Linked DNA regions of Homo sapiens: region 1 is linked to region 2. Evidence: fine-mapped expression QTL. A gene starts in region 2. The other region holds a variant in brackets. All regions are shown on one strand. Distances are between the middles of the regions. Region 1 overlaps PRXL2B (peroxiredoxin like 2B). Region 2 holds the start of MMEL1 (membrane metalloendopeptidase like 1).

Region 1 (4,127 bases), 40 kb before region 2:
GCTCCCTCCCCATCAGCTCCCAGCTGTCACTCTCTCCCACCCCCGGGCAGCTGTTTTGCCCAAGACCACTGCTACCTGTTTACCCACCCTGGTCCCTCCCAGACAAGCAAGGCCTCTGATTTCTTTGAAGCATTTACTTAGCTCAAGTCTGAAGCTGTAGATACTGGAAGACAATGCACCTTGGAGGGTGGGCAGGACACAGTTGATTGTCTCTACAGAGCTGTGACGGGGGCACTGAGCCCCGCGGGTGTCTGTGGAGGGGGCTCCGGTCCAGGTACTGCACTGGACACTGCTCATCCCTGGGTGTCAGGCAGGTGGCTGCACCCTAGGCCAGGCGCAGAGGCCTGGCAGGCAGGCTTGGCATGGTTGGCCGGGGCGGGACGTACACTGGGTCGCCGCTAGCTGCACCTTCGCACAGATGCCTCCGAGCAGCGGGTGGGCGTGGGCCGCACAGCGCGGCAGGGCCTTGGCTACCACACGCGGCATCGCTCCTTGGGGTGCATGGGGGTGCCCCGGGCACAGTGGAACGTGTCTGCGAAGGCGGCCAGGTTCTGCAGCGACCCCAGTACCCTGTGGGTGGGTGGGTGTGACAGCAGGAGCATTGCCATCTTGGACAAACATGGCCATTTTAAGTTCTCCGTGATTAAAAACCAGCCCAAAACATCAGCCTAATGGCTCATGTCAGTATGAGCAGAAACATTTCAACCATGAGATAAACCCCCATCTGACCAGAAACATGCCAATCCTGAGAATAACCTCCCCTCCAGCCAGAGATATTCCAACTCTGCAATAAAACTCTCCTTCACACAGAAACATTCGCAGCCTGCGGTAGGCTCCCCCTTCCTAAACCCTTAAATGCCCTTAGTCTGTAAGAGAATGTCCCTGACCGAAATCGGCCAGAAGCCCCTCTCAGGTTTATTCCCAAAATAAACCTGTCTCTGTTGAGCCACTTTTTGTGCTTTCTTCTTTTACAGGCCACTGGGGTGGGGGTGAGGGGGTTGTGGGTGGCAAGGGGGTTGTGAGCATGGGAGACTTGCCTGTACTTCAGGGGACTGTGGACGTCTGTCTTGATGGATTGGATGGCGAACTCGGGCCGGTAGGACCCGCACCACACCTGTGGGCATGTTGGGGGCGTGGCTACAGGTGGCGTGGTGGGGTGGCCAGGAGGGGTGGGGGAGGGTCTCCACTATCCCCAGGCTGCCCCTTCTAGGGTGGGGTGAGGGGAGTCAGCAGGTGCTCCCCTCCTCCCATCAGCATTGAAATCCTGTCCAGCTCCCGCCCCCTGCCCCTCATGCTTTTCCCCCAAGGGGCCTTCCATGCTGGGCTCTGGTCCCTGGAGGTGCCCCAGAGTGGGCCCTCCAGAGATGAGTGGGGAAGCATGGGGATGGTGGGACCAGGACTGCGGCTGCCACCTGGGCATAGTTGATGAAGAAGAGCTGCTCATGGGTGAGATCCAGGCCGGGCAGCTGCTGGTCCTTGCCACCCTCTGCCATCCACTTGAGGTAGGCCTGCAGGCACCAGACAGGAGCTGAGCTCAGGCCTGCCAGCCTGGACTCCAGAACCCTCAGATCTCAGGGCAGAGCAGAGGTCTGGCTCCAGGACCTACCCCTGTGGGGGTCCTGCTGCTGCAAGGGCCCTTCACACACCCCACGGATGAGCGCTCACCACCTCAGTCACTCAGGGACCCCTGAGCTGGGCCCTCGGGGGGGGATCCCTGGCCAGACAGCCCACTGCACACCACCTGTCCCGAATGAGCCCCTGACGCCCCCTCCCCTGAGGCACTGGTGCCCCCCTCCCCTGCAGCGCTGATGCCCCCCCTCCCCTGCCATGCTGACGCCCCCTCCCCTGCTGTGCTGGCACCCCCTCCCCTGCCGCGCTGATGCCCCCTCCCCTGATGCACTGGCGCCCCCTCCCCTGCCATGCTGACGCCCCCTCCCCTGCCGTGCTGGCGCCCCCTCCCCTGCCGCGCTGACGCCCCCTCCCCTGCCGCGCTGACGCCCCCTCCCCTGCCGCGCTGATGCCCCCTCCCCTGCCGTGCTGGCGCCCCCTCCCCTGATGCACTGGCACCCCCTCCCCTGCCGCGCTGACGCCCCCTCCCCTGCCGCGCTGACGCCCCCTCCCCTGCCAGGCCCCACCTTATAGGCTTGCCGCACCCCTCCGTTGTCAGCAATGTTTTCCCCAAGGGTGTTGAATCCGTTCACCTGCGCACAGGAGACAGGATTGGGGCAGCCCCGGCCCTGACTTCCCTCTCCCTCAGGGCCAGGGCTGGGGCTCCGGTACCCC[C/T]GCAGCCTGGGTGCTGGTGGCAGCGCTCACGTTCTGTTCGTCTGCCAGGTCCCAGGAGTAGTTGCCGTACTGGTAGATCATGCACTCTGACTGCTCCCGGAAGTGCTGGGTGGAGAAGTTACTCCACCAATCCATCATGTTGCCATTCTTGTCGAAGTTCCGGCCTGGGCAGGGGCAGAGGAGGGCTGCCCACATGCCCCTGGCTGCACTGTGCCTGGCCCCACGGCAGCCACTGTGCCTGGCCGCTCCTGCCCCTCCTGCAGCCAGCCCCAGTACGGAGAGCCCACAGTCTGAGTAGGCTGAGCCTGGAAGAGCATCGCGGGCTCCAAGGGGCAGCAGCTGTCTGGGGCTACACAGCCCCCAGAGAAGGAGGGCTTCAGTGGTCTCCCATGCCACCCCCTGAGGCTAGGGCCTAGCACCTGGGTCCTGTGGTCTTGGAGGCATCATGGTTTAAGGGCTCCTCCTGGGATGCCCAAACTCTAAGTTCCAGGCGAGAGGAGTACGTGGTCCCTGGGGACAAGGACTGCCCACGGAAGGTCCGGATGGCCGAGCCACAGGGGAAAACCAGCTGGGGCCCCTGTCCCAGGCAGGGCAGTCCCCACCGAGGGGCGGAGGTCAGCATGGCCATGGCGGGGGTAGCACACCCCCCGGTGGAGGATGCTGGCCGTCTGGAGAGTCTCCCAGGCTGGGATCTGGGCTTCGCTGCTGTATTGGGCAGTGTTGTCGTCCCCATGTCACAGGCCGTGGGAGGGAAGTGCCCAGTGCCAGGTGGAGTCAGGGTCATGGGCTGGAGTCCCTGGGTCCCCTCCTCCATGCTGGGAGTCAGTGCCCCCAGACAGGGCCCCAGCCTGGCATTCAAAGCCTGCTCTGCCCCCACAGCTCCCTGAGGACCTGGCCTCGGTGTCCCCACTGAAACCGTGAAGGGGTTGAATGGAGCGCCCCCAGGCCCCTTCCTGGCTGCTTCTCCGCGGAGAGGGGAGGGCGTGTGTGATTGGAGGGGCGGCCGCTCACCATTGTCGTCAAAGCCGTGCGTGATCTCGTGCCCGATCACCATCCCAATGCCTCCAAAGTTCAAGGCCTGTGGCTGCTCCTTGCTGAAGAAGGGGGGCTGGAGGATCCCGGCAGGGAATACTGTCCCCAAGGGCGGGACAAAGAATAAGCTGTGAGTGGACACATCTCCTGTGTGCCAGGCTCAGGGATGGCGCTGCCAGGGGTTCTGACACTTGATCCCACAGACCGGGAGGCAGAGGTCAGGATTCCCTCAATTTACAGATGAAGACACGGAGGTTCAGAGGCTGGGCGGGCTCGTGCCTGGCAGACCCAGGACCTCAGTCCGGCCTCCTCCCACCATCCTGTTCTGCCTGCAGGAAAGGCTCTGGGCCGCCTGCCAAGTCCCTCCCGAAGCCGCTCATGGGCACGGGAGTGAGTGTTCCCCACGGGGGCAGCAAGGGGTGACATAGGAGAATGTTCCAAGAACAGGCTGGGGTGCCCCCAGGAGGAAGGGATGGGCAGGGGGCTGCAAGCCACCCCTTCAACTCTGGCACCAAAGGGCCTGGGCAGGCAGGGAGGGGGAGGAACTTACCAATCTGGTTTCGGTTTGGGGAGTAGAACGCATTGACCACCGCCGCCCCGATGATCCAGCTGTGATAGACAAGCCGGTCTCTGGGAGCCGCCTCTCCGGGGACCCTCCCTCTGGGCTCTCTCTGCCTTGATGGACCAGGGCCTACCCTGGCCACACCAGAGCAAGGGCCCAGGCCTATCCCAAGATCTGGTTCCTTCCTGGGGTCCCTGAGGAGGAGGCGACTTGGGCCCCAGAAAGCAGAGGGTGATGGGGGACTCTGTCC
Region 2 (4,400 bases):
AGTGAGTGTGCACGTGTGTGTCCTCGTGTGTGCATGTGTGTGACTGCACGTGTGTGCCTGTGCTCGCGTGTGTGCGTGTGCATGATTATGTGTGCGGATATGCACGTGTGTGCGTGTACACTCGTGTGTGCACGTGTGTGACTGTGTGATTGTGCACGTGTGCGTGTGCTCTCATGTGTGCATGTGCATTATGTGGATATGCACGTGTGTGCCTGAGTGTGCACGTGTGTCCTCTCGTGTGTGCGTGTGCATGATTATGTGCGTGGATATGCACCTGTGTGCGTGTACTCTCGTGTGTGCATGTGTGTGACTGTGCATTGTGTGCGTGTGCTCTTGTGTGTGCATGTGCATGATTGTGTGCGTGGATATGCACGTGTGTGCGTGTACGCTCGTGTGTGCACGTGTGTGACTGTGATTGTGCACCTGTGCGTGTGCGCTCATGTGCATGTGCATGATTGTGTGTGTGGGTGTGCACGTGTGTGCGTGTGCTCTGGTGTGTGGCTGTGCATGTCTGTGTGTGTGTGCACATATGTGAGCACATGCATGGATGTGCACATCCCTCGCTGGCACTCGGAGCCCTGCTGGGAAGTTGCCCGGTCCTAGGGAAGCGGCTGGGTGCTTTGGCCTTCCAGCACTTTCAGTCGTCACACGCAATCACACACCTGCTGTGCTGAGCCCCAGCTTAGCCCTGTACCAGGCAGGGCGGATAATGTGGGAGCAGCGAAAGGAAGCCAGGCCCAGTCCTGCCTGTGGGTGGGTCAGGGACTGGCTGCTGAGACTGCCAGCACCTGGGCTAAATGTGCTTCCGCCCCCCTGTACCCCACCGCCCCCCTGCTGTGGACTTTGCCTGAGTTCTGTCCCTGACTCCCTGGGAGATCCTAGATGTCCCTTAGCCTGTCTGGGCAACACCCTGCAAAGGTGGCTGGGCCAGCTCATTTCAGCGACTCCTCCAGAGATCCCTGACCTCTGGCTGTGTGAGGAGCGGGGACGGGGACCTGGACCTCACTCCTCTCCTCCAGGTCCCTCGCTCCTCCCTTCCTGTCCCCTCAGCCACCTCTCTCAGTCCCTGGCTCTGTGAACCGCAGCGTTCATGCATCCACACACCCTCAGATGCTTCCTTTGACGCCCTCTGCTGTGCCCCTAGACACCCCTATCCCGCCACTGGCTGAAGCTGGACTTTGGAGCCATCTGCCTCCCTTGCCTGCGTCCACACCCCGCGCCAGTCCTCAGCCTCCAAGCCCATCTCAGTCGGACCCTTTCTCATTCCTGCCACTCGCTGCCTGTTCCAGGCCCCACCAATCACCTCCCCCTGAGGGGTCTGTCTCACCCACTGATCCCCACCACAGGGGCCCAGGGGCCTGTAACTAGAATCAGAGGCCGTCACTCCCTGGCCCCTGGTAGCCAAACCCTTGGAGGAAGAGCCGGGCCTTGCCCTGATGTCAGGACCCTCTTTGGCCCTCCTCCCCTCTCACTATGCCCTCCCCTTACCCTCAGGCAGGCCCACCAGGTTTCTCCCCCCACCCTCCCCACCCACCCAGGCAGGCCTCCCAGATTCCTGCCAAGCTCCCCTTCCCAGTGGGGCCTTCCTTGGCTCGGCCTCGGGTTCAACTCGGGGAGCCCCAGCCCCTCCCCTGCTCTGTGTCTCTCCAGGGACTCCCAGCTCCACCTCCACATCTCCTCGATACTTCTGCAGCCCCCTGGGAACGTCAGCTCCACGGGCAGGGGCACCCTCTGTGGGGGCCGCTTCACCTAGACTGGCACCCCCACCCCAGAGACCTCGGTCATTATCTGTTGGGTGAATGAATGAATGAATGATGAATGAATGGATCAATCATTTGGACAAGTCTGAGCTCAGCTTCCACGAACTTCTTTCTTTGGTCAGAATTAATGAATCTGCTCCTGCGTCCTGAATTCATTCTGTCCTGCAGGTATCCACAGACGGCTCCATGTGCCCCACGGCACACACAAAATAAACACCTTCAAATTGAGCCAAGTACCCGGGGCAGGTGTGGAGTGTCTGCTGAGGCGAAGGCACTGCGGCTCCCTGGGGACACTCGTGGCCTCTCCAGGTTACTACAGATGGGGGACAGCGGGTCCTTTGGGTAAGATAAACCGTATGCCAGAGGGGGCTGCCTGCCCTGGCACAGGCGAGACTGCACACAGGACGCCCTGCCCAGCCTCCTGAGAAAGGGGCTGAGCGCCTGGAGAGGGTTTCAAGGCCCAGGAGAGGGCCTGGAGAGGGTTTCAAGGCCCAGGAAAGCAGGCCGGGTACCTTCCTTCAGCACAACTCACCTTTGCTCACTCAGGAGTGGCTGCCGCCCACAGTCAGGCCCCTGGAGACTGGGTCCCAGTGGGTTGGAGTTGGGGTGAGCTGGGCCAAGTGGGTGGATTTCCAGGGACTGGGATGGGAGAGCAGTGGCTTGGGGCTGAGTTGAGGCTGCCTGAAGGCTTCTGGGCCTCCTTTGTGATGCAGGCATGGGCTCCCTGGAGGCGGTGACTCCTGCTCACAGTCAGGAGGTTCCACTGGGGGTGTGGCATGGGGGGAGGGGCTGAGGGCAGCTTCTTGGCACCCGGGCTGCCCTGCCTCATGGGTGCCCTTCTCAGGGCCTCTGGCCCCGCCTCCCAAGCCGCCCTCCTTCCTTGCTTCTGTCTCCTGACCTTTCAGTCCAAAGGGGCCCCAGGGGCTGCTGGGAGGAAGGTCAGGCCCTTGTCCTACTCCACACCCTCTGCTCTGCCCCTAACCACCCGGTGGGGGGTTACAAAGGCCCCACCCTGGGTGTTCTTTCTCTTCAATCTCCAAGGAGGATGGTGGGTTCTGGGGATCTTGCCAAGGTGCAAGGGGAAGGGGTGGTCCTGAAGGGGGTGGGCGCTGGCTGCCAGGAGGGTCCCACCCAGAGATACTAGCCTGGGTTTGGCTGCTTCCCTCTGCCCACAGAAAACTCATGAGGTTCAGACCTCAAGCTACAGAGGGTGGGCAGCCCTGGCCGGGGAGCTGGCAGAAGGGCTCTGTGGCTTCTGAAGGGTTCGCAGTGATCAGAGTGTGAGCCCTGCACCCAGCCCTGCTTGCGGACGGGGGTTCTGGGCAGAGCAGTCTCTGTCTGATTCTCCAGGCCTGATGAGGTTTCTAGCTTCTGTTTCAGAATCCCCAGAACGAGTCCTCCTGCCCAGGCCTTGGGCATGTGTCAGGGCATCTGGGCAGGGCTGGGCCACAGAGCTAGGGGTCCCACGGCAAACTGCTCCTCACGGCCGCCCCGGCCAGGTCTCCCACGCTGAGTGCTGTTGGAAGCTTTGTCTATGGCCCTTTAGGTTGGCCAGGCCCTGGGAGGAGAAAGGCTTCGAGCTGCAGCCAGGCTGGGATCAGATCCCAGACACCACCCTGAGCCCGGGAAGTCTCTCCCTGGGGCCCGCTGGCTGTCCTAGCAGCCCCCTGCCATCACGCCCAGCAACCAGCCCAGGAGCTGCAGTCTGGCCTCAGGCTGCCTGGGTTGCTGGCCCAAATGGAAACAATGTCAAGGCCAGCCAAGCAGGAAGCTGGGACCGCCCTTTCTGGGGAGCTGGGAGTGGGCCAGGGTCCAGCCTGGCTGGAGGCTCCTGCTATGGGGAGAGGCCAGAGCCTTTCCGAGCCCACCTGCCCGACAGCCCTGGTGCCAGCAGGCCCTTTCTGGATGTCACAGTGTTCTTGTCTCTAAGGTACAAATCCACAGAGGGAGAAACAGATGCAGGGGCCTGGCCTACTCTCAGCAGGGGCTCCCTGGACTCTGAACCGACTCCCCAAGGCTGGCCCTGTGCATGCTCCTCCTTCCCGAACCCCAGGCCTGTCCAGCCCAGCAGCCCCCAGCCTGGCCCAAGGCCACCTGGTGACCTGGGCTGCCAAACTTGGGACCCCTTATTCCCAGGTTCTCCCTACTTCTAGGTGACAGCAGGAGGCTTGGGTCCTAGCCTGGCACCTGCCAGACAAGAGAAACTGGGAAAGGAGGCTAAAGGCCAAGGAGGCTGCAGACCCCGAGACCTACCCCGGTCACTGGACACTCACAGATTTGCAGGTGCCCAGGGCAGTGCAACCCAGCCGCCCCAAACACCTGCACAGATGACTCTCTCCCCAGACACCCGCACAGACCGTCCCCCCAGACACCCACACAGACCATCCCCCCAGACACCCACACAGACCATCCCCCCAGACACCCACACAGACCATCCCCCCAGACACCCGCACAGACCATCCCCCCAGACAACCTACACAGAATAAACTGTCCCCCCAGATACCTACACAGACCATCCCCCCAACACCCACACAGACCATGCCCCCAAACACCCACACAGACTGTCCCCCCAAACACCCACACAGACCATCCCAACACCCACATAGACCATGCCCCCAAACACTCACACAGACTGGCCCC

The links. PIP is the estimated chance that this variant, and not a neighbour inherited with it, causes the effect. A credible set is the group of variants that fine-mapping cannot tell apart.
Region 1: its variant is the best candidate, but not a certain one, in a credible set for the expression of MMEL1 in whole blood (TOPMed, PIP 0.66).

The regions. Positions count from the first base shown.
Region 1 is chr1:2,590,520-2,594,646 of GRCh38, forward strand. PRXL2B (peroxiredoxin like 2B) reads left to right here. Exons shown (of 7, transcript NM_152371.5): 7 at 1-949. MMEL1 (membrane metalloendopeptidase like 1) reads right to left here. Exons shown (of 24, transcript NM_033467.4): 18 at 3,866-3,924; 19 at 3,295-3,414; 20 at 2,314-2,447; 21 at 2,136-2,201; 22 at 1,413-1,508; 23 at 1,038-1,114; 24 at 120-570. The coding sequence ends at 471. Among named protein-coding and RNA genes, the nearest start is that of PRXL2B, 5.8 kb to the left of the region's middle. The variant C/T (reference allele first, on the strand shown) is at 2,284.
Region 2 is chr1:2,630,574-2,634,973 of GRCh38, forward strand. MMEL1 (membrane metalloendopeptidase like 1) reads right to left here and starts at 2,443. Exons shown (of 24, transcript NM_033467.4): 1 at 2,293-2,443. MMEL1-AS1 (MMEL1 antisense RNA 1) reads left to right here. Exons shown (of 3, transcript NR_183343.1): 2 at 1,929-2,102. RefSeq lists an enhancer at 173-673.